Linked DNA regions of Homo sapiens. The protein of the gene in region 6 interacts with the protein of the main gene of each other region in a biochemical or structural test. Each region holds a gene or a part of one and is shown on either strand. Other genes may lie near its edges.

Region 1 (4,483 bases), about 63 Mb from region 6:
GCCCTCCCCCTCTAGCACACAACGCACTGGAGAAAACTGCTAAGGCATTGCTGAATATCTACCACTCTACTCTGATGGCACACAGGGCCAAAAAGATTATAGAATAAAATCTAACTGAAAAATTATAGGTGATTTTTATAAGTCTGTTTAAATGCATATGCATCCCAGGCATTCCACCTGGCAGTCTCTGTCTCAAGGGCCCATCCACCTCACCATGGTCTGGAGGGAGGGGATGAGGAATAGGGAAAGCCAAAGAATTGATCTTTTCTGAGTTTGCATCCAGAACATGGGCCACAGAGAAATGGTGAACAAAGTCACCCATTATTATTAACAGCTATGATTTATTCAACATTTCCCTGTTGCCAAGCATTAAATAAGCTGTTTTATCTCCCCACAACCATGAGGTAGATAATGTTAAGATCCCCAATTCAGACCTGAGGAAAAGCGTGATATGAAACAGAGAAAGATTCTGTAACCTGCCATTGCCCACAGCTACTGGGACTTGGCACAGGGTTCAAATACAGGCAGCCTGACTTCTCTCTGAAGGATGTCAAGCCACAGCCACCATACTCACCTAGTCCCCACATAATGATGGCCCAAGGAACTCGCTTCCTCAATTTTTGCTTAGTTTTACTCATTCATTCTTTCGAGAAATAGAAGAATGCCAGACACTAGGCATACAGCTATCAAACAGTGAGAAAACAACAGGCCCCATTTCATGTGCCTTAGAGTGTAGTGAAGGAGACAGAAAATGCCAACAAGTAAACACGCAAAAACTAACTGTCAATGGTTGCTCTAAAGGAACACAAAGTGCCATGAGCAAGGAAATAGGAGGGACCTACTTGAGATGACATAGAAAGTCAAAGAAGGCTTCTCCAGAAAGGGGGCATCAAAGCTGGGACACGAAGAAAGAGAATCAGACAGCCAGACACACAAGAGCCGACAAGATCTCCAGAAGGAGTGCTGCCATGGGGAGCAAGTGTGGCATGGCCCTGGGGTGCAGGCCAGGCCGGGGGCAGGGACTGAAGCAAGTTGTGAAATTTCTGATTATCAGGGGCAGAATGGATTCCTAAGGCAGCCACTGTCTTCTGTTAACTCTGGAGTTTTCTGCATCCCTTTTGCTTTAAATGAGGCATACATGTTTTCATAGCTGTGATGAAACCCCTACAATTCTCCAGTTTAGCATTATTTATTTTACTCTTAAAAAATAACAAAGCTGACCCTGGCAGATGTTTGTACTGGGAGATTCAGATCCATCCAGGCCCCCACTGTTAATAGCCCACGGGAAAGTCCCTGCAGTCTCTCAGGGAAGTCATTCTGTGTAGAATCTGTAATTTCACAGGCAAGTCCTGCAACTTTTTAATTGTTTAAAATTCCCAGAAGGAATAATTACTGAAATTATCTATGAAGGGTTTAATGGACACAGACATGAGAGCTATAAACAATGTGATACTATGTCCTGTTAACTCACAGAGAACGGAAGGGCTGGAACGGGACCCAGCCAGCAGGGTTTGTGACCGCCTCTGCTGTGACGTCACAGCCTGGTGAGGAGGGGGCTGCAGTTCCTCAGGAAACTGCCAGTGGACAAATTCATAAACAAGAGCTCCAGTTCCCTGGAACCTGAGTCGGGAGACCTGCAGCTCACTTTCTCCCTGTTTGCTGGCCAGCAGGGTTTGTGGCCGCCTCTGCTGTGACGCCACAGCCTGGTGAGGAGGGGGCTGCAGTTCCTCAGGAAACTGCCAGTGGACAAAGTCATAAACAAGAGTTCCAGTTCCCTGGAACCTGAGTCGGGAGGCCTGCAACTCACTTTCTCCCTGTTTGCTGGCCCAGACAGGCCTGTGCTAGAGGGCTGGATAGTGTGGTAGTGTGGTGGATAGAGTGCTGCCTCTATCCACAACGCAGCCATATGCTGACTGAAGATAACTTTGTGTCTGGAAGAGCCCTCTGATTTCTTACACTAATGGCCTTACACGACATGGAGGATTTTACATTTGATGGAACAAAGCGCTTAAGTGTCAACTACGTGAAGGGAATTCTTCAACCGACAGACACCTGTGACATCTGGGATAAGATCTGGAACTTCCAAGCCAAGCCTGATGACCTGCTTATTTCTACCTATCCTAAAGCAGGTAGGTGGAAGGGCTTGCAGGGGAAGGGGAAGAGGAGAGTTAGGAAGGTAAGTGGAAGTATGCATTAGTCATGAAATAAAGAAGTTGATCTGGAAAACTCTGGACAGAGTGATATGGCTAAGGAAAGTTACTAGTGGAAACTGAAGCTATACCGAAACATACTAAAATGACATACAAATTTTTAGAATTCAATCTTCCTATGATACTATGATGTACTTCCTTTTTTTTTTTTTTTCACTTTCCCAGGAGAGAGTGAAAACAGTTAAGAGCAAAAGGGTAGACTTGTTTATTTATTCATTCCCAATCTAGGCCCTTATTGTAGATCTTGTAAAAAGCTGCTTTGAGTGTGTGAGCTAGAAAGGTGATCCTGAGTCTGATTTGGGAAAGAAATAGGGGAGCTTTGGTTCTGCAATGCTGATATCACCTCAGCAGCCCTCCCATCTCAGGGTCTGAGAACCATCCTTCTGATTTCCACCTTCCTTTGTGGTAAGTTTTGAACCAACTGCCTTATCTCAACAATCAGTTTAACAAAGTTGTCTGTAAAAGTAGGACTAGCTTAAGCCGAGCCACCACGTCATAAAAATTGGGTGATGATGAGGTGGAAATAGTTCTCTATAAATATTTTTGCATATCTACATATCTACTAGAAATACATTACTGGGTCCACACACAAATTGTATATACATTTGCTCTTTGCAAAATCAAGCTGTCAAAAACTCTTGTTATACACACACAAACACACACACATCAAAAAATCTAAACCTCAGTATTTTCTGAGACTGTTCAAAATCCTCTTTTGTTCTTATCTCTCAAGATCCTGACAGAAGATTCTGCAGGCACATGGAGGCCTTGGTCTCTTCTTTGTCCATCTGTTTCATTTTGGTCCTGATTTCCCAATCTTACTCATCAGGAGCCCATTCAGGATCAAATTTTTCTGAATGTAAATTTCTAAAAGTAGCCACTGGTGAGGATCACATCTCATCATCTTAATTTCATTGACAATTCCACTTGATTATCAATTCAATACATAAATAATCTTTTCTCTATCTGCCAAACGCAAGTACAAAGATATGGTTCATTTAGGTTTTTCATGGCATTAATGAGGTTTAAGCAATTCAAAAAGCACACTAAGAAAATTAAATACTTGCCATCTAAAGTAATATTTAATCATAACTAAAACCATATACATTAATGAAGGCTATTTTATTAGAAGGAAGAAGAAACAAGCATAGATGGCAAAAATAGTTCACCCTAAATTTTTAAAAGAATAATACTCTGAATGACACAAGAAAAAAATACATCATAGAATCACTGGCCTCTAGAGAATAAATTGAGAAGTCATTCCACTCACCCCGGAGCCTCTAGCAACATTTGAATCTGCCCTCATGTTGGCTCATGTCTATAAATTCATTCAATTCATTCATTATAGACATTCAGTGTTATGGCTATAAATTCCCATAAAACTAGTACAAATGGCTGGACTATTCTTTGCATGGATAGCTAAAGATATCTTGGCCCTTTGTCCTGTAATAAAAGTTGCTGCCAGAAAATACAGGAGACCAACTACTATAAAATATAAAATGTAATTTAATTTTTTTCTAACCTATGCCCTTATTCTAGGCCTTTAAAAGCACTAAATTGAGAATATGGGAAAAGGAATCTATAGAGTTTCGGCCAGATAATACAGGAAAGATCAACCTAGATCAGGATTCAGAAAGCCATCCTGGCTAGGCATGGTGGCTCACACCTGTAATCCCATCACTTTGGGAGGCCAAGACAGGGGGATCTTTTGAGGCTAGAAGATTGAGACCAGCCTGGGCAACATAGGGAGACTCCTATGTACAAAAAAAAAATAAAAATTAGCCAGGCATGGTGGTGTGCACTCACAGTCCTAGCTATTTGGGAGGTTGAAGCAAGAGGACCATTGAGCCCAGGAGTTGGAGGCTGCACTGAGCTAGGATCCCACCACTGTACTCCAGCCTGGGCAACAGAGCAAGACCCTGTCTCTGGAAAAATAAAAAATAAAAAAAGCCATCCTAAAATAACTCAACATCCTCCTAACCTGGATTTTGCCAGAACATCTGGTGCAACAGATCTTCATCAAAGGGTGAAGATTATGTTGATAGCACAATATCACTGTATCAGTCAGGATCAGTGCAAGACACAGACAGACTGAAGCTGGGGGATACCATTCTACCTATGGCCACAGTGGCAGTGGTTGGGTCTAGGGCACTGGGCCATGGAACGTGGAATGGTCTCTGCAAAATTTCTATCTGCTGGGGCTACTATCAGCAGCCACCACCTCAGGAAGGATGACTTCTATCTCCCCACTGCCTTCCAAAACTCAGGCTAAT
Region 2 (3,568 bases), on a different chromosome or scaffold from region 6:
GGTCCCGTCTAGCCCAGTATTCTGTCTCTGACAATGGGCACCCATTTGTGGAAGCATTCTTCATGCTGGCGGCCCTGTGGGCTTTGTGATATGCCCCAGATCTCTGGCTTCCTATAATAGTCCACGGGGGATGTGTTATCCAGGAATTTTTAAAACCCTCCTTGAACCTATTCATATGTGCCAGCTCTTAGGGTGACAGATTCCAGAAGTCAGCAAATATTTGAACGCTTAGTTTATGGCTAGCACTGTGCTAAGCATTGTCGAAGATAGAAATGATGCTTCATAACTGGTCTTGGCTCTTGCTTGAGCTTATTCTTTTTTAAGGAGACAAGACTTGGTTGCAGTTGTGGAAAAGGTGGGCAGTGACATCAGATGTCACCTTTAGAACACCAGGCAGACCATGAGTGGATCAGACTCACAGTGACAGAGCTCACAGAGACTAATGTCTAAAAACAGAAACATATTATTAATAATTTATGTTGAAAAATAAAACTACCAGACCCAACACTGATTTATCCCCATATGCAAGTCTAATAGCCAAATCGTAATCAGCAGGCTGATGAGTGAACAAGAGGAGCTTTAGTCAGTGTGATTGAGTCATTGATTATGGCAGCCTAACACAGCCCTTTCCACAAAGAAAGACCGTATGTTTGTCTTTCTGATGTCTCCTGTTCTAAACCTAGTTGATCTTTTTCATATGTTATTCCATTCAGCCCTAATAGTCCAGCCTTGTTTTTTTGTTTGTTTGTTCATTTTTGAGACAGGATCTCACTCTGTCGCCCAGGCTTGAGTACAGTGGCACAATCACGGCTCACTGCAGCCTCGACCTCCCAGGCTCAGGTTATCCTCCCACCTCAGCCTCCTGAGGAACTGAGACGATAGGCACGTGCCACTACACCTGGCTAATTTTTTGTAGAGATGGGGTTTCATCATGTTGTCCAGACTGGTCTTGAACTCCTGAGCTCAAGCAGTTCTCTCGCCTCGGCCTCCCAAAGTGCTGGGATTACAAGCGTGAACCACCATGCCTGACCCCAGCCATGTTTTTTTGGTTTTGTTTTTTTTTTTTCGTTTTTTGTTTTGTTTTTTTTGAGATAGGGTCTTGCTCTGTCACCTACTCCTCTAGGCTGGAGTGCAGTGGCACAAACACAGCTCACTGCAGCCTGGACCTCCTGAGCTCAAGTGATCCTCCCACCTTAGCCTCCCAAGTAGTTGGGACTATAGGCACACTACAGGTGCACGCCACCACACCTGGCTAATTTTTTGTAGAAACAATGTCTTACTATGTTGCCCAAGCTGATCTTGAACTCCTGAGCTCAAGCTATCCTCCTGCCTTGGCCTCCCAAAGTGCTGGGATTACAGGCATGAGCCACTGTGCCTGGCCCCAGCCCTGTTTTGAAAGTGCCTTTGCATATCTCTGTTCTGTCCATATTAGTTGCTTAAAAGTTTAATGCTTGAAGATAATTGTTCTTTCCTAAATATTTTGAGAGGAGGAATCTGTATTGAATATTGATTCCTCCCCATCATCTACCTCCTACATATGCAGCAAACAATACAAAACAATGTAGGATGAGGTGCTAAATTATGTCGTCTAGACAACATGAGCCAGAAAAACAAATCAGAGAAAAGAGAGGTCAGTGTGGGCTGAAAATGCTAAAGAAGGCATCTGTGTGTGGCACAGATGGGAATTGAATTCCTGCTTTAAAAAGTAGAAAATTAGGCAAAAGCAGATAGGGAAGCATGAAGCAGGATAACTCCAGGGGAGGAATGCTTTCACTTTTTGTTGCTGCCCTCCTCAGTAACACTCAGCTTTTCTTTGGCTTTTCTGGCCAAAGAAATATACAAGGCAGGACGGGCGCAGTGGCCCATGCCTGTAATTCCAGCACTTTGGGAGGCCAAGGCAGGTGGATCACAAGGTCAGGAGTTCGAGACCAGCCTGGCCAACATGGTGAAACCCCGTCTCTACTAAAGATACAAAAAAAAAAATCGGCTGGGCATGGTGCTGCACGCTTATAATCCCAGCTACTCAGGAGGCTGAGGCAAGAGAATCGCTTGAACCTGGAAGGCAGAGGTTGCGGTGAGCCAAGATCGCGCCATTGCACTCCAGCCTGGGCGACAGGGCGAGACTCCGTCTCAGAAAAAAGAAAAAAGAAAGAGAAAGAAAGAAATCTACGAGGCAGTATGAGGCAGTGGAAAGGCTGCTGAATCCTTAGTCTCCTACTTAGGGTTTGGCATTTGCAGTTCCGGGGTGCCAATGTCCACATTTGTAAAATGAAAACAGTATCACCTGCCTTGTTGTTTTTATTGTGTGAGGCTTAAGTGAGAAGGGGATGTGTGTGATATTCCTGGTGCATAGTAGGCATTCAGTAGATATTAGCTGAATCTAAATTGAGTTGATGTATTTGGGGAGAAGTTTCCCCAGATTTAGGGATTGCCAAGTTACCTGGGATTCCCTTGGTGGTTGGTGTGACCCTGTCTAGAGGTAATAGCTTGGCTTACTTACATATAAGCTTCAGTGTGCTGTGTCACAAATTTCTTTGTACGCCTCTTGGGCTACCGTGGTTTTCTTTAAATAGTCCTATTCAGCCTTGTCAGATATTTCAGTACTAATCGAATTTTCTTTCTTGTAGGTACGGAATGGCCACATCAAAAGAATCACTGATAATGACATCCAGTCCCTGGTGCTAGAGATTGAAGGGACAAATGTAAGGTAGGTTGCCACCTCTGTTCTCCCAGAGACATCATATACTAGGGAGGCAGTACGTCATAGAGGTTAATAGCACAGACTGCGGAGTCAGAGTGCCGGATGTGAGTCTATCTCTGCCACTTAGAGCTTACCATGGGCAAGTTACTGAATCCCCCAGACCTTAGCATACTCATCTGTACAATGGGCAGAATAATAGTACATTTTCCTTATAGGGTTATTGCGAGGAGTAAATAAATGAATATATATAAAACACGTAAAGCCTTGCTTAGCACATAGTAAGCACGATGTCAGTATTAGCTATATTATTAACCAAAGTGTGTGTTGGGGTGGGGAGTGGGCAGTGTTGTACAGCTCATCCAGTGGGTGGACAGTGTGGTTTTCAGTGCCATAGAGGTCTCAGTTTTGGTTTTCTGTCATTCGATGGCTCCCCTGGACCAGAATTGAGGTCTTCTCTCACTGGAGGAGCTTCTAAGATCCACTGTCTGGCTTTGTTTTTCAGATATTTTATTGCTGCTGTCTAGTCCTGTGTTAAGCTTTTGTTTCTGGGTCCAGCGTTTGTTAAAGCAGCCGCTGACTTAGGGCTGAGGGATTCACTGGGTGGCGTGTCTGAATCTTTTAGATCTGCTTTCCAGTGTATCCTCTTGGACCGTGTGTTATTGTTGTGCATACCACAAAGGAAGAGAGTCCAGGAGTGTGTTTATTAGTATTTCCTCTCTCTACAGCACCACATATATCACATGCCCTGCAGACCCCAAGAAGACGCTGGGAATTAAACTTCCTTTCCTTGTCATGATTATCAAAAACCTGAAGAAGTATTTTACCTTCGAAGTGCAGGTAAGTATGTGTACATGAATGTGTCCACTC
Region 3 (3,923 bases), on a different chromosome or scaffold from region 6:
TTGAGAACGGGCCATGATGACAATGGCGGTTTTGTGGAATAGAAAGGGGGGAAAGGTGGGGAAAAGATTGAGAAATCGGATGGTTGCCGTGTCTGTGTAGAAAGAGGTAGACATGGGAGACTTTTCATTTTGTTCTGTACTAAGAAAAATTCTTCTGCCTTGGGATCCTGTTGATCTGTGACCTTACCCCCAACCCTGTGCTCTCTGAAACATGTGCTGTATCCACTCAGGGTTGAATGGATTAAAAAAAAAAAAAAAAGTGGATGGGGAACTTTACAGTGGTTGGAGCAGCCTGGCAACACCTGAACCCATTAATGAACTCTTAACACCTCTAAGAGTGGGACAACCAAGCACTGTGCTTTTTTTTTTTTTTTAAAAAAAAAAAAAAAAAAAGGAAACGAAGTCTCCCTATGTTGTCCAGGCTTGTCTCGAGCTCCTGGGCTCAAGCAGTTTTCCCATCTCTGCTTCCTAAAATGCAGGGATTACAGGCATGAGCCACCATACCTAGCTCTTCTTGGCATAATGCAATGGAAAATACACAGTTCTATCCATGACGTTTTCTCACATGTCCCTCCCACATCCTACTGAACCTGAATCAAATAAACCTGTTATTCTAACTATCTGTTTAGGAGGGAAACAGAGGATAGCAGAACCTGCTAAGTGACACTGCCAACATGCAGTTTGCCAAATTCAAACTATAGAACAAATGACCCAGTTTCTTTAACAGATAAATAACAAGAGAAAAGGGCCAGTGGCAGAAGACCTGTTAGAGAGATTTTAAAAACCTTACCAGGCAAATGCAATGTGTGGATCTTGTTTGAACCATAATTAGCACAATAATGGTTCTAATACAAAGTTCAGCTGCTAAAAGATATTTTTAAAGGCATTTGAGGGAATTTGAATTTGAAACAGATACTAGATGATATTTTAAAATTCTTTCCTGAGAAATGGTCTATGAAGAAAAATTATTGTTTATTTTGTTAGGTATGATATTGTGAGAGATTTTGTTAGAAATACAAACTGATGTATTTTGGGATGAAATGATATGATACAGAAGGAACATAGATTTAATAAGATTGGCAAAATGTTGATAATTTGGTTGATGTTGAAATTGGGTGGTGAGTACATGAATGTCATTATGCTGTTGTTTGTATTTTCATGTATGTTCTAAAATGACCATAATAAAAGCTTTTTTAATTTATAGTAGACCACAAAAAATATTTTATTCCCCATTTGCAGTTGCCATTTAAAGTAAAACCAGCCATCACTTTATACCATGTGCATTGATTGTCTGGAAGCACTCTTGATTTCCTTTGTTGTGTTATAACCTAGTTATTTATATTAATAGTTCTTTATTTTAACTTTCCAGTTGGCTACATGACAAAAAGAAATAAATGACTAGAAGGCTGGAATTCAACAGCCTTGGGTTCTGGCTCTAGCTGTGGCTATGTAACTCCAAACACTGAGTTTCTGATCACTTTATAGATTCTCTAAAAATCTATAAAAATTGGCTAATTATTTCTTTTCTTCCTCATTGAGCTTTTATAAAAATAAAAGAAAATACATTAAATCTGAAAACACTTCTTTTGAGACAGGGTGGGTCTCACCCTGTCACCCAAGCCGGAATGTGGTTGTGCAATCATAGTTCAATGTAACCTTGAACTCTTAGACTCAAGCAAACCTACCACCTCAGCCTATTGAGTAGCTGGGGACTACAGGTGAAACTTTTTTATTTGTTGTAGAGATGAGGTCTCACTACGTTGTCCAGACTAGTCTTGAACTCCTGGCCTGAAGTGATCTTCTGCTTGGCCTTTAACCTATCTTGGAGTGCTTCTCACAGTATATTGAAATGGCCAATTAACCCATATCTTCTCCGCTATACTTTAGATCCCTGAGGTTCTGTGTCCTTTTGCCATTTGTTTTTAGCCCATGGTGTAGTGTAAGCATTTAAATATTTATGGAATTAGTTAAAATATTGATGTTTTAGCATAACTCTTGGTATGTATTTGGGAGTGATTTTTTTTTACACCTTTGGTTCACACAAGTCATGGTGTTTCCAATGCAAATTGAGATGAAAAAGTTCTCAGTAGATAGCTTAGAATTCATTATTAAGACTCTAGTCATATCTGCCAGACTTGTGCCTTAAGTGGTTGAATATACAAATGAACATCCTTCCATCCATGCCCCTGGTGGGGGGTAACTGAAGTAACACGTGCCAGGATATAATGCTTTTATTTGTTTTTTGTAGGTGCTGCCATGCTTACTGAGTCCCTTCTCTCTCCTTCTCTATCATCTTCCATCAGTGAGTATCACCAGCCTTTTGCGACAGCTAATGAACCTACCTCAAAGTGCAGCTACACCAGCACTCTCCAATCCTCACCTCACTGCTGTGCTCCAGAACAAGGTGATCTTGCCCTTTTAACTCCTTGAACTTTGTGAAATGTCTTAATTTGCGTTATAGATTAAAATAATGGCTGCTGTATCTCTAGCAACTTGGGAAAAAGGCTTCTTTCAGTCAAGAGTTACATTAAGCTCCTAGTAACCGGCTAGAAATAACAGTGTTTTCAACAAAATGGGATTTTATGTGTCTAGTGTGAAATAAATTTGATTTAGTAGCTCGACAGAGTCATCAGGGATCCAGGCTTTTTCACTTTTTTTCCTCTGCCATTCTTACCAGTGGCTTCCATGTTCATTATTCCTCATGGTCCAAGATGGCTGTGGAATTCATGATTCAGCTTTACATCAAGAAGGACAGGTGGATGTGGAGGGCAAAAAGATGTGGACCAGCTGTCCATCTTCCTTATTGAGACCTTTTCCAGGAGTTCTAACCAGAAACTTCTACTTACTGTTAATAGCCAGGACATTGTCACATGGCCACACCTAAGTGCAGGGAAGGCTGGAAAATATCTTTTAGTTTATGCCATTGTCATGACACATAAGAGTTCTGATAATGGGTAGGAAGGCATATTAGGCAATTAGCAGTCTCTGTCATAACACTATGAATAGTAGAATCATCCATTTCATATTTTATTTGCATCAAGTTTAAAGATTCAGAGATTCCTAGGGGAAACATAATATGAAATAAAGAATATGAATTTTTAGTCCTTCCCTGCTACTGTCTAGCTTTGTGACCTTGGACAGATGATATCACATTGCTGAATCAGTTTCCTGGTCTATAAGATGGAGGTGATGATGTAGACTTCATAGAGTTGTCCTGGTACTTAAATGAGATAACAGTTGTAAGTGGTTCGATATAATGCCTGGTACATAGTAGTTACTCATTAAGGGCCATTCTATGTACAGTAGAGATGAAAAAGTGGTCTCAAGGCCTCTTGCTCCTTTGCACCAGAAAACCTACCAAAGCATGACTCTAAAGGTCAGTGTATCAGAGGAAGAAGAGGTGACAGTGCCTCTGGGGTTCTGGAGTGATCCGGAATGTGCCTTTCTGTTATTTGGTCTCTTAGTTTTAATTTTAGTAAAGGCAGTAGTATTTTTTTTCTGAGAATAACATGAAAAGGGATTTTTTTTTTTTAAATCAGGGTCTTCTCTGTCACCCAGGCCAGAGTGCAGTGGCAAGATCTCGGCTCACTGCAACCTCTGCCTCCTGGGCTCAAGCCATCCTCCCACCTCAGCCTCCCAAGTAGATGGGACTACAGGCACATGCCACCACGCACAACTAATTTGTGTATTTTTTGTAGAGGTGGGGTTTCGCCATGTTGTCCAGGCTGGTCTCAAACTCCTGAGCTCAAGCTATCAGCCTGCCTCGACCTCCCAAAGTGTTGGGATTACAGGTGTGAGCTACTGCAACCGGCCATGAAGGGAAATTTTGTGGAAAAGTGAGTGAGTCTAGAAAGTTGGAATGGAATCCCAAAGTACTGCCAGCCTTCCTTTTATGATCCATTTATAGGTATGAGTCATACATT
Region 4 (4,671 bases), on a different chromosome or scaffold from region 6:
CTAGAAAAAACTATGAAGATAATAAAAATGGGACCTGCGTTTATAATATAATTATCATGAATAATGGCAAAAGGAAATTAAATGAAGTGAACCATCAGCCTTCATGAAATCACTGTCTGTCTGGTAGTCTTGCTGGGTGTCTTCCAGCCTCAGATTTAGCCTACCTTTTATGTGATGACACAATGACCATTTAGAAAATGGGCAGTGATGCCAATGATTATCAGACATCATTTACTGTGGACCAATATAATTGGGAACACCACTTCTTTTTCTCCTGATTTGGTTTTCCTGCCATGAGAGTACACAATGACATTTAGAGCAGCTTCATGCAACCATACTAAAGTGAAAAATTAGTCATTTTGAACATCTTGGCAGTGGAACTGTATAATTACTTCTGTCAAGTGTTTGTGTTTTGTCTGCATTGTACATATTTTTTCTTTCCTATGAGTGATTGGAGGAGTGGAGGGGGAAAATAAAGGACTTTTAAAGTCTATAAACATTATCATAAAAAAATTTCAGGGGGCAACTGCTAAAGATAAGTGGAGTCTTAGGAATGTTAGGGGTTCTTTTATAGGCAGGGGCTTAATTAGGCAGCTAAAGTTCTGTTCCATAACCTTGCGGTAGAAAATGACTTATGGCTAATTTTGAGGGGTGGGCTTGGCTTGGCAGTGGCTATTTCTGGTCAGGCTCTTCCCTTTTATAATTATGAAATTTCCTTCCCCTGATTTCCTAGAACATTTGCTTATTGTCAGGATAATTCATCTGACATTTACTAAATCTGGCCTTGTAGAGTTAATTACCTTTTCCTATTCCTAGATTACCTACATTGCAAGCCTAGAAGGTTATCTATCTCTTTTTCATTGCATCCACCACAATACTGGGCACACAGGTGGGCTCAAGACACAAGGTTTTGGAATTTTTAGGGCAGAAAACATAATTCAGAAATCACAGCGTCATGGGATCTGTAAAAATGACCAAAAAACTTGGTTAGCTATCTGAGTGGGCAGGCTTCTTTCCCAGAGCAGTAATTGTCACACTTTGGCGTGCATCAGAATCACCTGGAGGGCTTCAGTTTCTCATTCTACGGGTCTGGAGTGGGGACTGAGAATTTGCCTGGTACTGTGTATTACATGCATTATCTCAATTCACGCACAGCCTTATGAAATGCCTACCACTTTAATTATAAATGACTCGCTGGAGCGCAGAGGCCACGTGACTGGTGGGGGTGCTTGGCAGCACTGGCCACTTCCATCGTCTTGGGGGTGGGGGTGGCGGGGCGCGCGCGTGTGTGTGTGTGGTGATTAGCATGCCTTTTATTTCTTTCAGGGTCTGGAGATAGAAGAGAAATTCCCTGAGAAAAAGAAAAGTAGAAAGGTATTTACTCTGATCTTCTGGCCCCATCTGGTGGTTTTAAGTCTGACTAAAAAAAAAAAAAAAAAAAGCGCTGATTCGTGATCTCCCCCTGCTGGTGAGAATGGTGGGGTCAATCCGGCCGCCTCTCGTACCAGTTGTTCTGAGGTGCATTTCTGTGGAAGCATTTCCGTCATTCTGAGACAGTTGGGCTGAGGCGGTTGGTCGCCTCTCTCTCTCTCTCTCTCTGTTCCTCATCTACATTTTGATTGGTTTATTTTTGTATTGTTTTCTTTCAGTTTCCGATAGGTGGAGAACATTCTGCTAATAGCTTTTCTTCCAGTCCATTTGTGGCTTGTTAAAGGTACAACATGTATTGTCAGTCGTGACGAGAGCTTTTTGCCTTATATATTGATTATATATTATAAATATAGAAGTATATCCTGTGTCAGGCTGGAGATGTGGGAGGAAAACTGGCTGAGGGAACTAGCCTTTAATTAGTTTATTTCCTCCCTGTCAAACCAACAAACTTTTCTGGAACATCTGAAAAAATAACCTTTAAAAAGTACTTCAGGCTGACCGTGGTGGCTCACGCCTGTAATCCCAGCACTTTGGGAGGCCGGGGCGGGCAGATCACCTGAGCTCAGGAATTCGAGACCAGCTTGACCACCATGGCGAAACCCCGTCTCTACTAAAAAGACAAAAATTAGCCGGGCGTGGTAGCGCGCGCCTGTAGTCCCAGCTACTCGGGAGGCTGAGGCGGAAGAATCGCTTGAAACTGGGAGGCAGAGTTGCAGTGAGCCAAGATGGTGCCACTGCACTCCATCCTGGGTGACAGAGCAAGACTCTGTCTCAAAAGAAAAAAAAAACTTAAATATACAGTTACTTGGTGACAAAATGTTTATCCTGCCCTGCAGATAGTGTATCAGTGAATGAATGTATTAAACATTACAGCTGGGTGCAGTGGCTGCGGCAGGAGGATGGCTTGAACTGGGAGGCAAAGGTTGCAGTGAGCCAAGATGGCGCCACTGCACTCCAGCCTGGGCGACAGAGTAAGACTCTTGTCTCAAAAGAAAAAGAATTAAATAGCCAGGCGCAGTGGCTCACGCCTGTAATCCCAGCACTTTGGGAGGCTGAGGCAGGCGGATCACGAGGTCAAGAGATCGAGACCATCCTGGCCAACATGGTGAAACCCCGTCTCTATTAACAATACAAAAATTAGCTGGGCATGGTGGCATGCGTCTGTAGCTACTTGGGAGGCTAAGGCAGGAGAATCACTTGAGTCCAGGAGGCAGAGGTTGTAGTGAGACGAGATCGTGCCACTGCACTCCAGCCTGAACGACAGAGTGAGACTCTTGTCTCAAAAGAAAAAAAAATTAAATAGCTGGGCACGGTAGCTCACGCCTGTAGTGCCAGCACTTTGGGAGGCTGAGGCAGGCGGATCACGAGATCAAAAGATCGAGACCATCCTGGCCAACAAGGTGAAACCCCGTCTCTACTAAAAATGCAAAAACTAGCGGGACATGGTGGCATGCGTCTATAGCTACTTGGGAGGCTGAGGCAGGAAAATCACTTGAGCCCGGGAGACAGAGGTTGCAGTGAGCCGGGATGGCGCCACTGCACTCCAGCCTGGCGACAGAGCGAGATTCCATCTCAAAATAAATAAATAAATAAATAAATAAAATATACTATTACTTGGTAACAGCTGGGCGCTGCGGCTCACTCCTGTAATACCAGCACCTTCGGAGGCTGAGGCGGGAAGAAAGCTTGAGGGCAGGACTTTGAGACCAGCCTGGGCAACATAGCAAAACTTCCGTCTCTACCAAAAAATAAATGAAATAAAATAAAATTAGCAGTGTGTTGTGGTGCCCGCCTGTAGTCCCAGTTACTCGGGAGGCTGAGGTGGGAGGATCACTTGAGCCTGGGAGTGGGAGGTTGCAGTGAGCCGAGATCATGCCACTGCACTCCAGCCAGGACGACAGAGCAAGACTGTCTCAAAAGAAAAAATAATAAAAATGAAATATAGTATTACTTTATGACAGCTGGGCACGGTGGCTCACTCTTGTAATTCCAGCACTTTGAGAGGCTGAGGTGGGAGTATTGCTTGAAGGCAAGAGTCTGAGTTTGAGACCAGCCTGGGCAACAGAGCAAAACCTCCATTTCTACCAAAAGAAAAAAAAAATTAGCTGGGTGTGGTGGCGCGTGCCTGTAGTCCCAGTTACTCCGGAGGCTGAGGTGGGAGGATCGCTTGAGCATGGGAGGTTGATGCTGTAATGAGGAGTGATCTCGCCAACTGCACTCCAGCCTCCTGTGCCTCTTGCTCTCAAGTCAGGATGATGAATCGGGGTAATGACTTCATGTGGTCACTAGGAGGTCGCAGCTGTTGGAAAACGTATTCCCATGCAGTAGGAGAACACCCCGTAAAAAAGCCGTCTTGAGAAGGTGTTCCTCCAATTAAAAGGGAAATTGGTGATTTCTCTTGACAGAATCACTCCCCATCCTAAAAACTGCATTTTTGTGTATGTCGTATTTATTGATACATTTCCTTAATATTTCCATTATGAAGATATGTATAGGTTCAAGGAAGGCAGTAACTGTCTCTGTGTACAACCTAGCAGTGGCTCATGTGCTTAGACACTCAGTAACTCTTGGTGATGTTGAGATGATTATGACAATAGTGATGGTGTTGATTATAAGAGTGGACTCAATCATTTGTGTCTTCTGAAATTCTCAACAGTTTTACATTCACCTAGTGAATTTATAAATTCACATATCACATTCTGCCTTGTGGTGTATTTGTTTCATTATGAGCTTTATCTTTCCAAAAACAGGACTTCTTGAAGAGAATGACTGTGTTTTGCCCATTTTCACTTACCCTGCTAAGGGTAGCACAGGTTCATATATATTAGCAAATGCCTAATGATATTTACATAATTGAAAATAAGTGGTAATGGTTCTTCAAGAATTGCTAGCCCCAGGACCACATAGAAGTGCTTGGTCAAGGCCAAAAACATTGGGTCATCCTGATCCAAACTGCCTGGATTATTGTAATAACTGGCTAACTGATTCCACTGAATCTATCCTTGCCACTCTTCAATGTAACAGTTTTTAGGAACTGATATACTTTATTAGCTACTCTGTTATTTTTTATAATAGCTTTGTTGAAATATGATTCATATACCATGTAACTCACTCATTTAAAGTGTACAACTCAATTTTTTTAGTATATTGTGTCACAGAGTTGTACAACCATTACCATAATCAATTTAGAGCTTTTTTAATCACCCCCAGAAGAAACCCTATACCCTTTGTCCATCACAC
Region 5 (3,923 bases), on a different chromosome or scaffold from region 6:
ACACTGAACATTGTTGGGGCAGGGATGATAACCCTGGTACAGAACACGGGCTCAAAAAAGTGAGTGAGACTGAAGCTGCTGGAATGGTTTTAGTGTCCACATTCATCCAAGGCCCTCACAGCCTTTTATAGCTCGCTTCCTCACTATGGGATTAAGTGGAACATCTTTTCTGATCACCATAAAAATGCCCCTCATAGCCTTTTATAGCTCCCCGAAGGATGGGTTTTCCCATCGGAATATACATTTTCACTGGGCTTTATTAGCTGGGTGGAACTATTATGCCCATTTTATATGGGGGGGAACTAAGGCCCATAGAGAGGAGGGGTGGTGCCGCTAGTCCTACAGCACCAAGAATGTCTCCTCCTCTACCTTAACTTAACACCTCCCCACACAGTGACCTCACCTCCGCGATGGAGTCAGGGGCACCAGAGCCAAGAACAGGTACCATTCCACCCCAACCACCCCAATCCCACTCTTCAGGAAGGGGAAGCCCCTCAGGGGCTGACACTCACTGTGGCATCTTCAGAACAGGAGGCGATCTCAAAATCATCAAAAGGGTTCCACTTGACATCCAAAACGTTGCCTCTGTGCCCGCAGACTTTTGGGTAGTGGGGGTCCAACTTCCCTGTCTGCAAGACAGTGCCCAGGAGGGTTGGGGAGGAGGTGGATTCCACATTAGCATCTGGACAGTCACATAGTCAGTTAGCAACCAGTCAACAGGAAAACATAAGGGACAGAGCTGGGTGTGAATCTAGGCCTTACTTCTTATTCCCTGTGGGATCCTGGGGGAGTTACTTCACTTCTCTGAGCTCTGGTGTCCTCCTCAGTAAAAGGGAGCAATCACAGGTATTTCACAGGTTGGTGTGAGGATCATGGGAGAGGAGGTATGGCACAGTGCCTAGCACATGGCAGATGTTCAATAAAAGGGCATTTCCCCTCACACACTGCTGGTAGGCATGTAAAATGGTGCAGCTCTTTTGGAAAATAGTCTGGCAGTTCCTCAAAAGGTTAACCGGTTCCCACATGACCCAGCAATTCCACTCCTAGGTCTATCTCCATGGAAAATGAAAAGATAAGTCCGCAAGAAACTGTTTCACCTAATCCCAGCACTTTGGGAGGCCAAGGTGGGTGGATCACCTGAGGTCAGGAGTTCGAGACCAGCCTGGCCAACATGGTGAAACCCTGTCTCTACTAAAAATACAAAAATTAGCCGGGCGTGGTAGCATGCACCTGTAATCCCAGCTACTCAGGAGGCTGAGGTAGAACACTTGAACCTGGGAGGTGGAGGTTGCAGTGAGCTCTGATTGCGCCATTGCACTCCAGCCTGGGTGACAAGAGTGAAACTATGTCTCAAAAAAAAAAAAAAAGAAACTGGTTCACCAATGTTCACAACAATATTCTTCATAATATCAGAAAGTGGAAACAACCCAAATGCCCATCAAGTGAAGAATGGACATACAAAATGCAGTATATTCATGCAGCAGAATACTACTGTCCCTAAAAAGAGGAATGAAGTACTGGTCCCTGCTACAGCATGGATTAACCTAGAAAACACTAGAAGAAGAGGCCAGGCACAAAAGGCCACACGTTGTGTGATTCCACTTAGATGATGTTCCAGATGTGGTTTCATTGCCTGAGCACATTAATGCATCCCCCTGGTACCTGGTATCTGGAACCCTAAGTAATGCATATGAAAAATGCAGAACGGGCTGGGCGCGGTGGCTCACGACTGTAATCCCAGCACTTTGGGGGGCCGAGGCGGGTGGATCACGAGGTCAGGAGATCGAGACCATCCTGGCCAACATGGTGAAACCCTGTCTCTACTAAAATACAAAAAATTAGCCCGGCGTGGTGGTGCACGCCTGTAGTCCCAGCTACTCGGGAGGCTGAGGCAGTAGAATCGCTTGAACCCAGGAGGCAGAGGTTGCAGTGAGCCAAGATCATGCCACTGCACTACAGCCTGGCGACAGAGCAAGATTCTGTCTCAAAAAAAAAAAAAAAAAGAAAGAAAAATGCAGAACGATACATTCATGGAGACAGAAGGCAAGATTCTGGTTGCCTCAGGCTTGGGAGAAGGGGCAATAGGGGGTGACTGCTAATGAGTGAGGGGTGTCTTTTTGGAGTGACAAAATGATTTTGAAATTAGGTGGTGGTGACAGTTTATTCACAGTATATTCACAACCTTGTGAATATACTAAGATCCACTGAACTATACACCTTAAAACGGTGAATTTTCCAACATGGCAACAGGACAAAACCCCGTCTCTACAAAAAATCAAAAAATTAGGCCTGGCATGGTGGCTCACGGCTGTAATCCCAGCACTTTGGGAGGCCAAGATGGGTGGATCACCTGATGTCAGGAGTTTGAGACCAGCCTGGTCAATATGGTGAAACCCCACCTCTACTAAAAATACAAAATTAGCCGGGCGTGGTGGCACATGCCTGTAATCCAAGCTACTTGGGAGACTGAGGCAGGAGAATCACTCGAACCCAGGAGGTGGAGGTTGCGGTGAGCTGAGATTGTGCCACTGCGTTCCAGCCTGGGCAATAGAGTGAGACTCCGTCTCAAAAATAAATAAATAAATAAATAGCCAGGCATGGTGTCGCACACCTGTAGTTCCAGCTACTTGGGAGGCTGAGGTGGGAGGATTGCTTGAGCCTGGGAGGTCGAGGCTGCAGTCAGCTATGATTGTGCCACTGCACTCCAGCCTGGGCAACAGAATGGGACCCTGTCTCAAACAAAAAACAAAACACGGTGAATTTTCTGGTATGTGAATTCTACCTCAATTACATAGAAAGGGCATTTCCCTCATTTTCCCCTTTCCTAATGAGAATTCCTGTATAGGTGCTGGGAGGGACATACAGGTCCCCCAGCCCATGCCACACAGCCCTGAAGCTATTTCCAACTCCACCAAGAGACTTGGATTTCTTGGGGTCATAGAGAAACCACACCAGTTCAGTCACAGAACCTTGGACTGGCAGTGACCAATCTGCTCATTTTGCACATCACATTGCATGGCCCTGGCAGAACAGGGACCAGGACCCAGGCCCTCGACCTCCCACATCCACCATCTAGTTCCAGGTTCTTGAGCCACCCACCAGAATGCTCCCCCAGCCATTTTTATATCTAAGTGAAAGAGACAGCTGAGAAGAAAACTGGCCAACATCCATCCATCCCACAAATATTCCCGAGGTGCCCAGGGGACAGGTGCTGTTGGAGGGGCTGATTGCAAGGTGAACACTCAACATAGTCCTTGACTTTGCAGAATCAATAGTCTTGGGATTTTTTCTAGAGGGACTTTCAAGAACAGGGTGGACTCAGGGAACACCCAACCTTCTCTTCTTCCATCACCTCCCCATCTGTGTAGAGACCACTGTACTTGTTTTTTTTTTTTTTAAGAGACAGGGTCTCACTCTGTTGTCCAGGCTGGAGTGCAGTGGTGCAATCATGATTCACTGTAGCCTCGAACTCGGGGTAAGACAATCTTCCCACCTCACCCTCCCAAGTTCCAGGCTAAGAACTACAGGCATGTGTCACCAAGCTCAGCTAATTTTTAAAATTATTTGTAGAGATGGGGTCTTGCTATGTTGCCCAGGCTGGTCTTGAACTCCTGGGCTCAAACAATCTTCCCAACTTGCCCTCCTAAAGTTAGGGATTACAGGCATGGGCCACCGTGCCTGGCCTATGCATGCATTTTAGTAGCTCTGCAAACAGAGGAGGTGGTCCTGTGCCTCCCTCTGGAAATACTCTGGCTAATCCAGGTCTCTCCCCTCAGGAAAAAGTGATCAGACACCTCCGCCTAGACTGGATCCCCTACTGGAGGGGACAACGCTATAAAGGACATTATTTAACAAATCTAAACAAGAACGGTAGATTACAGTATTATCACAACATTAAACTTATATAAGTTGATAATGTACTG
Region 6 (3,923 bases):
AATTTTATAAATGCCAATATACTGAATAAAAATAAAACAATAAAGCTATTATTTGTTTTTAATATGGACTTATTCCTCTATACTAGTAGTAAGCAGCCAGGAAAACAGATGACTGTACCACTTTTTTTGTAGGTTGGATAAAACCTTTTAAATCTATCTTTTCCTAGCAACCCCCTATTTCTTTCTCACTTTTTAGAAAAATTAAAAAGTTCCTAACAGTTATTTTTCCAACTGTTGAAAAAAACTCGTTATTATAAAACTGTTCAAACATATACACAAGTAGACTACTATAATGTGCCCTTATGCCCCTACCATCCAGTTTCAAAAATTACCAATATGTTGCCATTCTTGTTTCATCTATTCCCTAGTACCCTTGCATCCCACCCTTCCCAACCAGAGTATTATTAAAACAAATACATTATTTCTCCCAGTAAACACATCAGTATTTAAATAAAAATAACCACATACCATTATCACACCTAACTACATCAGTAATAATTCCTTCATCTCATCTAATACCTAACCTGTCTTCAATTTTCCCTGGTTGTCTCAAAAAGAATTTATACTTGATTTGTTCAAATCACCAGCCTATTTCTTAAATTAAAAACACAGAATGATCAGTATTTTAACAGCTTTACATGACTTATGTTTTTTTAAAAAGCAATGAATACCATTAAAGAGACATTTAATAATTTTGGTTCCATTGTGATTTACACACAAAGGTGCCCCTTTCACTTAAAAGCTTACGTATTTATTAGAAAGAAGGTCCCCATTTCCTCCCATCAATTTAACCTAAAAATAAGCAGGAAGGGATAAGCAGTAAAGTGACTACTTTGGTACAAAACTATAAAAGTATGAGATCAGATATAATATAGCACACAGTTGTTAAGAATATTCTGTTTGCAATCAGATTAGCTTATTAGCTGAGTGACTCTGTGCTAATACCCTCTCTGAGCCCCAAAAGTTAGGGTTATTGAGAGGATTAAATGGGGGTAAAACATATGAGGTGTTTAGAATAATACATGGTACGGCCAAGAAACATTAGCTAATTACATATTATTATTAAGGGTTAAGTGTAAAGAAACTGAGAAGAATAAAAATAAAGTAAGTTTATATAAGGGACAAGGCGGAACAAATCTATAAAGAATTCAAGGCAATCATAGTAAAGGATAATTGAAGAAAAAACTAAGCAAGCAATAAAAAGTTATTATCAGAGTATACTGATTATAATAAATTATATGTAACACATCTTCCTCCCAAAATTTCAGGTGAGTAGAAGTATACCTTTCCATAAGGTTAATATGGCAATCACTCAGCAACTGACTCAACATCTCCCATCCTGGTATAAAATACAACTCTTTACTTCTTGACTTACAATCTGCTTTTTGTCTAGTTGTTTCCCAACAGAACTGGCAATCATGAAAGGGCTTTAAAGGGCTTAGAGAATGATGTCACTAGTATTTAGGTCAGTATAGAAAGTTCAAGTCACTGGGCCCCAATCTGCACTTTCTAATCTCTATGTAAGCCTCTTCTACAAAAGTCCTCACCTATGAGGGTAAAATAGTTATTTAAAATACAACCAGGCAGTAGCAGAGGGTTGTTATGAAGGCTCATGGTAAGTTCATAAGCTCAACAACTTTTAGGCCACGCTAATGCTAACTGCACTTTTAGTGACTTTTAGATCCCAGCTGAACTATCATGATAATCTTTTCTACCTTATGGTAAGCCTACTTCACCCATTAAGTGCTTAAGGATAAACTATTATTAGAATCAGAGAAACAGGAATTGGAAGAGAGCCCAAAGATCACTTTTGATGAATGAGGAAGGTGAGGACCCTGACGTGTAATGCTTATCTAAGTTAACAAAAAATAGTGCATGGTTGAACTGATACCAGAACTGAAGTTCTCTTAACTCAAATCCCATAATTTTTCCAAGTCAGAAGCAGAAACGAGAAGGGTGTAGTCTTTGTCCCATGCAACAGTCAGGATTTCTTTTCCTTTTTTTTTTTTTTTTTTTTTTTTTTTTGAGAGAAAATGTCTCCCTCTGTCCCCCAGGGTGGAGTGCAGTAGCACAATCTTGGCTCACTGCAACCTCCCACCACCAAGGTTCAAGCGATTATCATGCCTCAGCCTCCGAGTAGCTGGAACTACAGGCATGTGCCATCATGCCTAGCTAATTTTTTTCTTGTATTTTTAGTAGAAACGGGTTCGCCATGTTGCCCAGACTGGTCTTGAACTCCTGAGTTCAGGCAATCTGCCTGCCTTGGCCCCACCAAGTGCTAGGATTACAGGTGTGAGCCATGGCCAACAAGCAGGATTTCTAATAATCTTATCAGCTTATCTCAGCACCTATGTTCTATATGATTTACATGTGATAACTCAGTTAATCACTGCAACAACCCTATAATGTAGGTATTGTTATTATTCTCAGAAGGAGCCAATGAGTCAGACAGGGATTTAAATAAGAAGCCCAAATTAATAAAATTAGTAAATAGCAGTCAGGATTTAAACCTAGCTGTCTGGCTTCAGAACCAAAGCTTTTAACCAACTATGCCAGTACGTAATGAAGCACAAAGGAGCTTATAAAAAGGCACACCAAATCTATCAGAGAAGATGCAGAGGGTCAGGGAAGCTGTTTAGAGGAACTAAAGATGAGCATATAACCCTTCACTAGGACTTCATCCCAAGAGCAAATGGGAAGCTACTGGGGCTTTCAAGTAGGACAGATGATCAGGCTGCCTTTTATAAAAAGTTCACTCTAGTTGCAGTGTACAAAATGACTTGAGAAAAGCAATGCCCAAAAGAAGACAATCAGCTATGAGGTTCCGGAAGAAGCCTTGAGCTAAGAGACAGAAGGGAAGGGTCATGGCTGAATTTAGGAGAACTTAATGACATTAATAATAGCAGGAACTAGGGGCTTATAATATGTGAGGGGAGGGGAACAAAGGGAAAGGAAGAGCATACGATGGTTTTTGTGTTTTTTCACTTGAGGGACCAGGCAGATGAATGGCAATGTTATATACTGAGGTCAGGGAAGTCAGAAGCAGTGTTAAAAGACATTTTAGAGGAGAGGAAGATAACTTCTATTTCAAATGTGAGTTTCCAGTACCTATGAAGCACCCACATGAGGTAAGTCATGTATACAAACATACTTTGAGGTATTGAACTCAGGAAGAAAGTGTGAGCTAGATATTACCTGGGGGTGACACCAAATAGATAACCCAGTGAATGAGAGAGGATAAAAACCTTCTTAAGGGAGAATACAGAATGATAAAAGGGACCTTAGGAATCCAATATTTAAAGGTTAGGCTAAAAGATACAACATAAAGTACAAAAAAAAAAAAAAAGAAAGGCATAAAATAGTGAACATGGGGAGTAAAAATGCTACATTTATACATATGCATTTGAGAAACGGACTTGACATAGGTAGAAATTTGGATAAATTCAGGACATGTTAATACTTCAGACATTTTTTAATTAAGGGGTACAATCTTTCTATAAGTGTACTGTATTAAATGGCTACCTGCCTATCTTGATTTAAATAGCTGTTACTCTTTGTATTGGACTGGTTAATGGTGACTAGGTATCAAATATCACAGGGACTGTGCAGGTGGCAAGGACAGTCTTTGGATTCTGGAAATAAGACAACAGAAGCCACAACAAACCCTTTTTTATAATGAGGACATATAATCAATAAACAAAAGACAAGTACTTCTTTTTTTTGTTTTTGAGACAGGGTCTTGCTCTGTCACCCATACTAGAGTGCAGTGGTGCAATCATAGCTTATTGCAACCATGAATTCCTGGACTCTGCAATACTCCCACCTCAGCCTCCTGAGTAGCTGGGGCTACATGTGTGCGCCACCACACCTGGCTGACTTTTTTTTAAGTAGAGACAAGGTCTCACTATGTTGCCCAGGTTGGT
Region 7 (4,050 bases), on a different chromosome or scaffold from region 6:
GAAAAAATAAAGAGGATAAGGATTATATCTCAGGTGGGGGGGGGGGAATTGTATCTCCCACTAACTATATGCATGTATATGCGCACGTGTGTGTGTGTGTGTGTGTGTGTGTGTCTCAAACCTTATGGACCAGGCTTTTTTTTTTTTCTTAAGACAGGGTATGGCTCTGTCGCCCAGCCTGGAATGCTATGGCACAAACACAGTTCACTGCAGACTCAACCCCCTGGGCTCAAACAATCCTCCCAGCTTGGCCTCTCAGAGTGCTGGGATTACAGGAGTGAGTCACAGTGCCCAGAGCCACTTTACCCATTTTTTTTGAGACAGACTCTCTCTTTGTTGCCCAGGCTGGAGTATAGTGGTGTGATCACTGCTCACTGCAGCTTCAACCTCCTGAACTCAAGCGATCCTCCCACCTCAGCTTTCTGAGTAGCTGGGACTACAGGCATGTGCCACCATGCTCAGCTAATTTTTGTATTTTTTGTAGAGAAAGAGTTTTGCCATGTTGTCCACACTGGAACTCCTGGGCTCAAGCTCTCAAGCTATCCACCCACCTCAGCCTCCCAAAGTGGTTGGATGACAGGCATGAGCCACTGTGCCCAGCCACTTTACCTACCTACCACATCCTGCCACAGTCCTAAGTTTAACTAATTAAAGAGATATGCTGTGAAATGTAAGAAAATAAGAGCAAATAAGTTAGTAGAAAGCAACTAGGGTAAAAGGAAGGCAGGAATACTACTATGGGAGATAAGCTAATCACAAGTTTGTTTTTGATGAGCAATGGAAAACTGTTTGATCAGGGTTGAAAGGACAAAATTGGCAAGAACTGAATCCCAGATAATAAAAATAGAAGTAAAGCTTGTTAAAGAAAAAAAAATCATTTTGTCACTCCTAATGAAATTATTCACACAAGGATTGGTGTTAAAAGCATTAAGTGAATAGCTGACAGAGAAAGGGCATTTGTACTGTACCAAAATGAACACATAGATCACTGTCTAGTAGCAAAAAAAAAAAACCCGAAAAAACAAAAACAAACATTAACTTCCTAACAGAGAGAGATCAGGCCACTCAGATTCGGTGGTCAATCTTAGAATTAGGAATAGTTTGACAACTAGTTTATGTTATCTCCTCGTGTGATGCTAGCTGGAGGACTGTCAGGGTACATAAATAACAGTCTTCCTCAAATACAAGGCAAATATCAACGTCAAAACAACAGATTATTCAGTAGTGTTTCTTTTTAATCCAACAGTAAAAAAGTTTTTCCAATCTACTGGAAAAGAAAAAATTGTTAAATTCAAGGCACTTAAAAGAGAGCTAACTTTAAATCTTGTTCTGGAACTTGAGAGAGTTCCAGTGGTATAAATGTCAGCACTCCCCGTGCCTTCCCAGGGACTACCATGGCTTGGCTCTGGGGACAGGGGCACCCAAGCAATTAGCTTGAAGGCCAAGGCCTTCAAGATAACACAAAGGCAAATCCCTCAGGAAGAACACCCTACTACTGCACTAATTATATTAGACAGCAAAGCGGGGTAAAAAAAAAAAAACAACTCACAATGGAGATATTTCCTTCTTAATTTCTGCCAAAGCCTCACGACATAGGCTTGAAGGTGATTCCTGGTCCTAGAATGAGAATTGAAAACCAATTTCGGTACAACCAATCTGGATGCACAACCAACTCAACACCGTGAGGTGGCAAAGGGGTAAGAGGCCAAGGAGTTCCTGGGCTCTGCTACCCTCCCCCACCCTAATGTTACCGAGAAACTAAGTTGAAAAAAAAGAACTATAGGAACCGCAACGACGAGACAAAGCTAAAAGTGCTTCGTCCAACTGCAGTACTGGGGATGCAGTGGGCTCGGGGATCCGAGGCCTGCTCCCAGGACGGGAGAGGGAAGGGTAAACGTCGTCTCGACGCCAGCAAGGGATTTGTATTCCCTCCTAAATTTGCCCACCCAGCGTCATCTCTGTCACTCCAAGCACCATTTCAGAGGTAACGGGCGGCGCGCATCACCTCTGGGCCCACAGTTGCCTCAAGAAGTTGCCCTGGGGCCCCAGCAGTCGACGACAGGGCCCCAGATCCGCCATTAAACTCGCCCAGATCAGCAGCAAAGAGTAAAAGCCGCGCAGCGCCTGGGAAAAGATGAGCGAAGGAGGGGACCCAGCGGGGCAGAGGCAGAAGCCCTCGCCCGAAAAACCTGGGGACCTCGGCTCCGGCGGCAGGGTGGCAGCGCGGTCCTGACAGCGAAGACCCGGCCGGGGCGCCCCTCCCTCGCCCAACCCGCCCCCCGCCACTATGCGGCAGGAGAGAAAGAAAAATGCCCCGCGACCTCCCCGGGCGGCCGGCAACCCGCCCCGCCACCCCGCCTCCCCGCCGGCCCCGCGACCTCCGCCGCTGGCGACCGCCTCACCCAACCCTCCCGGCCTCGCTCGCACTCTCCCAGCCCCTCAGGCCGGACGCAAAAGCGCCGGTGACAGGAGGGCAGCCCCGAGCTGCCCTCGAGGCCCCGAAGCGGCAACGGCGACGGCGGCCGCGCCGCGGGGTATTAATCCCGGGTCGGTGGGAGCCTCCGGAGGCTGCTCTCACCCATCTCCGCCTCCCCACTCACCTCGGCCTCCGCCTCCTCCTCCGGAGGCTGCGCTGCTCCCAGCCACCCCCACTCTCAGCGGCCCTGGACTGGAAAGACAGCGGGGATAAGCGTCACCCGGTTCTGGCTGCGGCTGCGCGGAACGAACAAGCCCACCCCGCTTCGGCGACAAGCACAACTCCGCGAGGTCCAGTCCCGGCTTTTCGCGCTGGTGAGGAGGCGGAGAAGCAGGGGACGGCGCAGCAGAGCCCGAGGAGGCCCCACCCTCCGTGCGCTCGTTGGCTGGCGAGGGAGACGAGCCTGGGCGCCTTGGGCACGCCCATTGGCTCCGACGGCCGTCCTTCAGGGCGCCCCCTCGGTGGGGTGGCCGAAGAGCTGTCCGTCAGGTGCGGGCCACACCCGCGGCCCTGCAGTTCCACTCCCGCCTGCCAGCCCTCAACTCCCGGTCGGGTTGTCTCCCCGCCGGTCTCCCGCCCCCAGCTACCGGGTCCGCCAGGGTCAGGAGCCCGAGATTCGCCGCCCGTCGTAGCGGCCCGCTTCGGCCCCTCGGGGCCCGGGGCTCTCCGGGACCTACACAGCCCGGGAGACTCCGGCGGGGCTGCCTGCCCTCGCCCGAGCCCGGGGGCCCAAGCTGCGGCAGCGGCTCCCAACGCCTCTGCTCGAGGAGAGCGGCGGCCTGGATGCCCCAGCGCCCTCCCTGTCCAGTTCCTTGAAGGCCCCCAAGAGGGGCGAGGCCGGGGAGGTGCTGGAGCGGGGCCAAGTGAGCTTTCGGGGCCGCGGTTGAACTGGAGTCTTGAGTGCGCTGCGGTCAGTGGAGGCCCTTCCACCCTCGCCGCGCCCCGTGGGGAATAGTCCCCCACCTCCCGCCATGGCTGCAGCAGGAGGAGACGACGTCCTCCATTTTGTCGGGACAACTGTGGGAACTTGGGACCCCTCAAAACCAAACCCCGTGGGGCCAGGACTTGTCCCGGAAGCCCCGACTGGGCTCTGCCATTCGGACAAGGGAACAGCCCCAGCTGCCGGCGTCTGCGTCCGCGGGGCAGTACTGGTCGGGCGCGACGGTGGAGACACCCAGACGCAGCTCCCCGCCTCCATCAACCAAGATGGAGGGAGCTGCAGGCTCCCTTGGAGCTGGGCTCTCGCGGGTTGGAGGGGCTGAGGCCTGCCCTGGGGCGTCCCTGGGCGCCGCCGTCCTGTGCTAGCAGCCCGGGGCGCTGGCCCTGCCTAGGCCTTTTTACTGCCTGCCACCGTCTCCTGGTCCGGAATGGTTGATGGAGACTCCATGGAGGCTCCCTCCACAGCCCGCTCTATCGCGGGGCGCACCCGCTGCGGCCCCTGCGGGGAGCAGAATCAGGGACAGATGGCGCCCGGTGAGGGCGGGCCCCACAGGCCACCTCCACGAGGGGTCTTCTCTTTTGTTCCTCGTCTACACCTACGTCTTCGGCGGATGTCATGGTGCTGAACCATTTCC

The links.
Region 1: the proteins of TLK1 (region 6) and SULT1C4 form a complex in vitro, tested with the Homo sapiens proteins (one large-scale study listed by BioGRID).
Region 2: the proteins of TLK1 (region 6) and CFAP20 form a complex in vitro, tested with the Homo sapiens proteins (one large-scale study listed by BioGRID).
Region 3: the proteins of TLK1 (region 6) and PATL1 form a complex in vitro, tested with the Homo sapiens proteins (one large-scale study listed by BioGRID).
Region 4: the proteins of TLK1 (region 6) and CCNB3 form a complex in vitro, tested with the Homo sapiens proteins (one large-scale study listed by BioGRID).
Region 5: the proteins of TLK1 (region 6) and CORO2A form a complex in vitro, tested with the Homo sapiens proteins (one large-scale study listed by BioGRID).
Region 7: the proteins of TLK1 (region 6) and ZMYM5 form a complex in vitro, tested with the Homo sapiens proteins (one large-scale study listed by BioGRID).

What each region holds. Positions count from the first base shown.
Region 1 is NC_000002.12:108,376,378-108,380,860, forward strand, and holds the start of SULT1C4 (sulfotransferase 1C4), read left to right. Parts: upstream 1-1,576; 5' UTR 1,577-1,960; coding exon 1,961-2,129; intron 2,130-4,483. UniProt on the Homo sapiens protein: Sulfotransferase that utilizes 3'-phospho-5'-adenylyl sulfate (PAPS) as sulfonate donor to catalyze the sulfate conjugation of phenolic compounds.
Region 2 is NC_000016.10:58,116,011-58,119,578, reverse strand, and holds part of CFAP20 (cilia- and flagella-associated protein 20), read left to right. Parts: intron 1-2,627; coding exon 2,628-2,707; intron 2,708-3,426; coding exon 3,427-3,538; intron 3,539-3,568. UniProt on the Homo sapiens protein: Cilium- and flagellum-specific protein that plays a role in axonemal structure organization and motility. Microtubule inner protein (MIP) part of the dynein-decorated doublet microtubules (DMTs) in cilia axoneme, which is required for motile cilia beating.
Region 3 is NC_000011.10:59,641,361-59,645,283, reverse strand, and holds part of PATL1 (protein PAT1 homolog 1), read left to right. Parts: intron 1-2,248; coding exon 2,249-2,404; intron 2,405-3,923. UniProt on the Homo sapiens protein: RNA-binding protein involved in deadenylation-dependent decapping of mRNAs, leading to the degradation of mRNAs. Acts as a scaffold protein that connects deadenylation and decapping machinery.
Region 4 is NC_000023.11:50,203,237-50,207,907, forward strand, and holds the start of CCNB3 (G2/mitotic-specific cyclin-B3), read left to right. Parts: upstream 1-1,528; 5' UTR 1,529-1,714; intron 1,715-4,671. UniProt on the Homo sapiens protein: Cyclins are positive regulatory subunits of the cyclin-dependent kinases (CDKs), and thereby play an essential role in the control of the cell cycle, notably via their destruction during cell division.
Region 5 is NC_000009.12:98,137,060-98,140,982, forward strand, and holds part of CORO2A (coronin-2A), read right to left. Parts: intron 630-3,923; coding exon 513-629; intron 1-512.
Region 6 is NC_000002.12:171,007,295-171,011,217, forward strand, and holds part of TLK1 (serine/threonine-protein kinase tousled-like 1), read right to left. Parts: intron 1-3,923. UniProt on the Homo sapiens protein: Rapidly and transiently inhibited by phosphorylation following the generation of DNA double-stranded breaks during S-phase. This is cell cycle checkpoint and ATM-pathway dependent and appears to regulate processes involved in chromatin assembly.
Region 7 is NC_000013.11:19,860,850-19,864,899, forward strand, and holds the start of ZMYM5 (zinc finger MYM-type protein 5), read right to left. Parts: upstream 2,801-4,050; 5' UTR 2,601-2,800; intron 2,521-2,600; exon of another isoform or gene 1,978-2,520; coding exon of another isoform or gene 1,975-1,977; intron 1,618-1,974; coding exon of another isoform or gene 1,550-1,617; intron 1-1,549. UniProt on the Homo sapiens protein: Functions as a transcriptional regulator.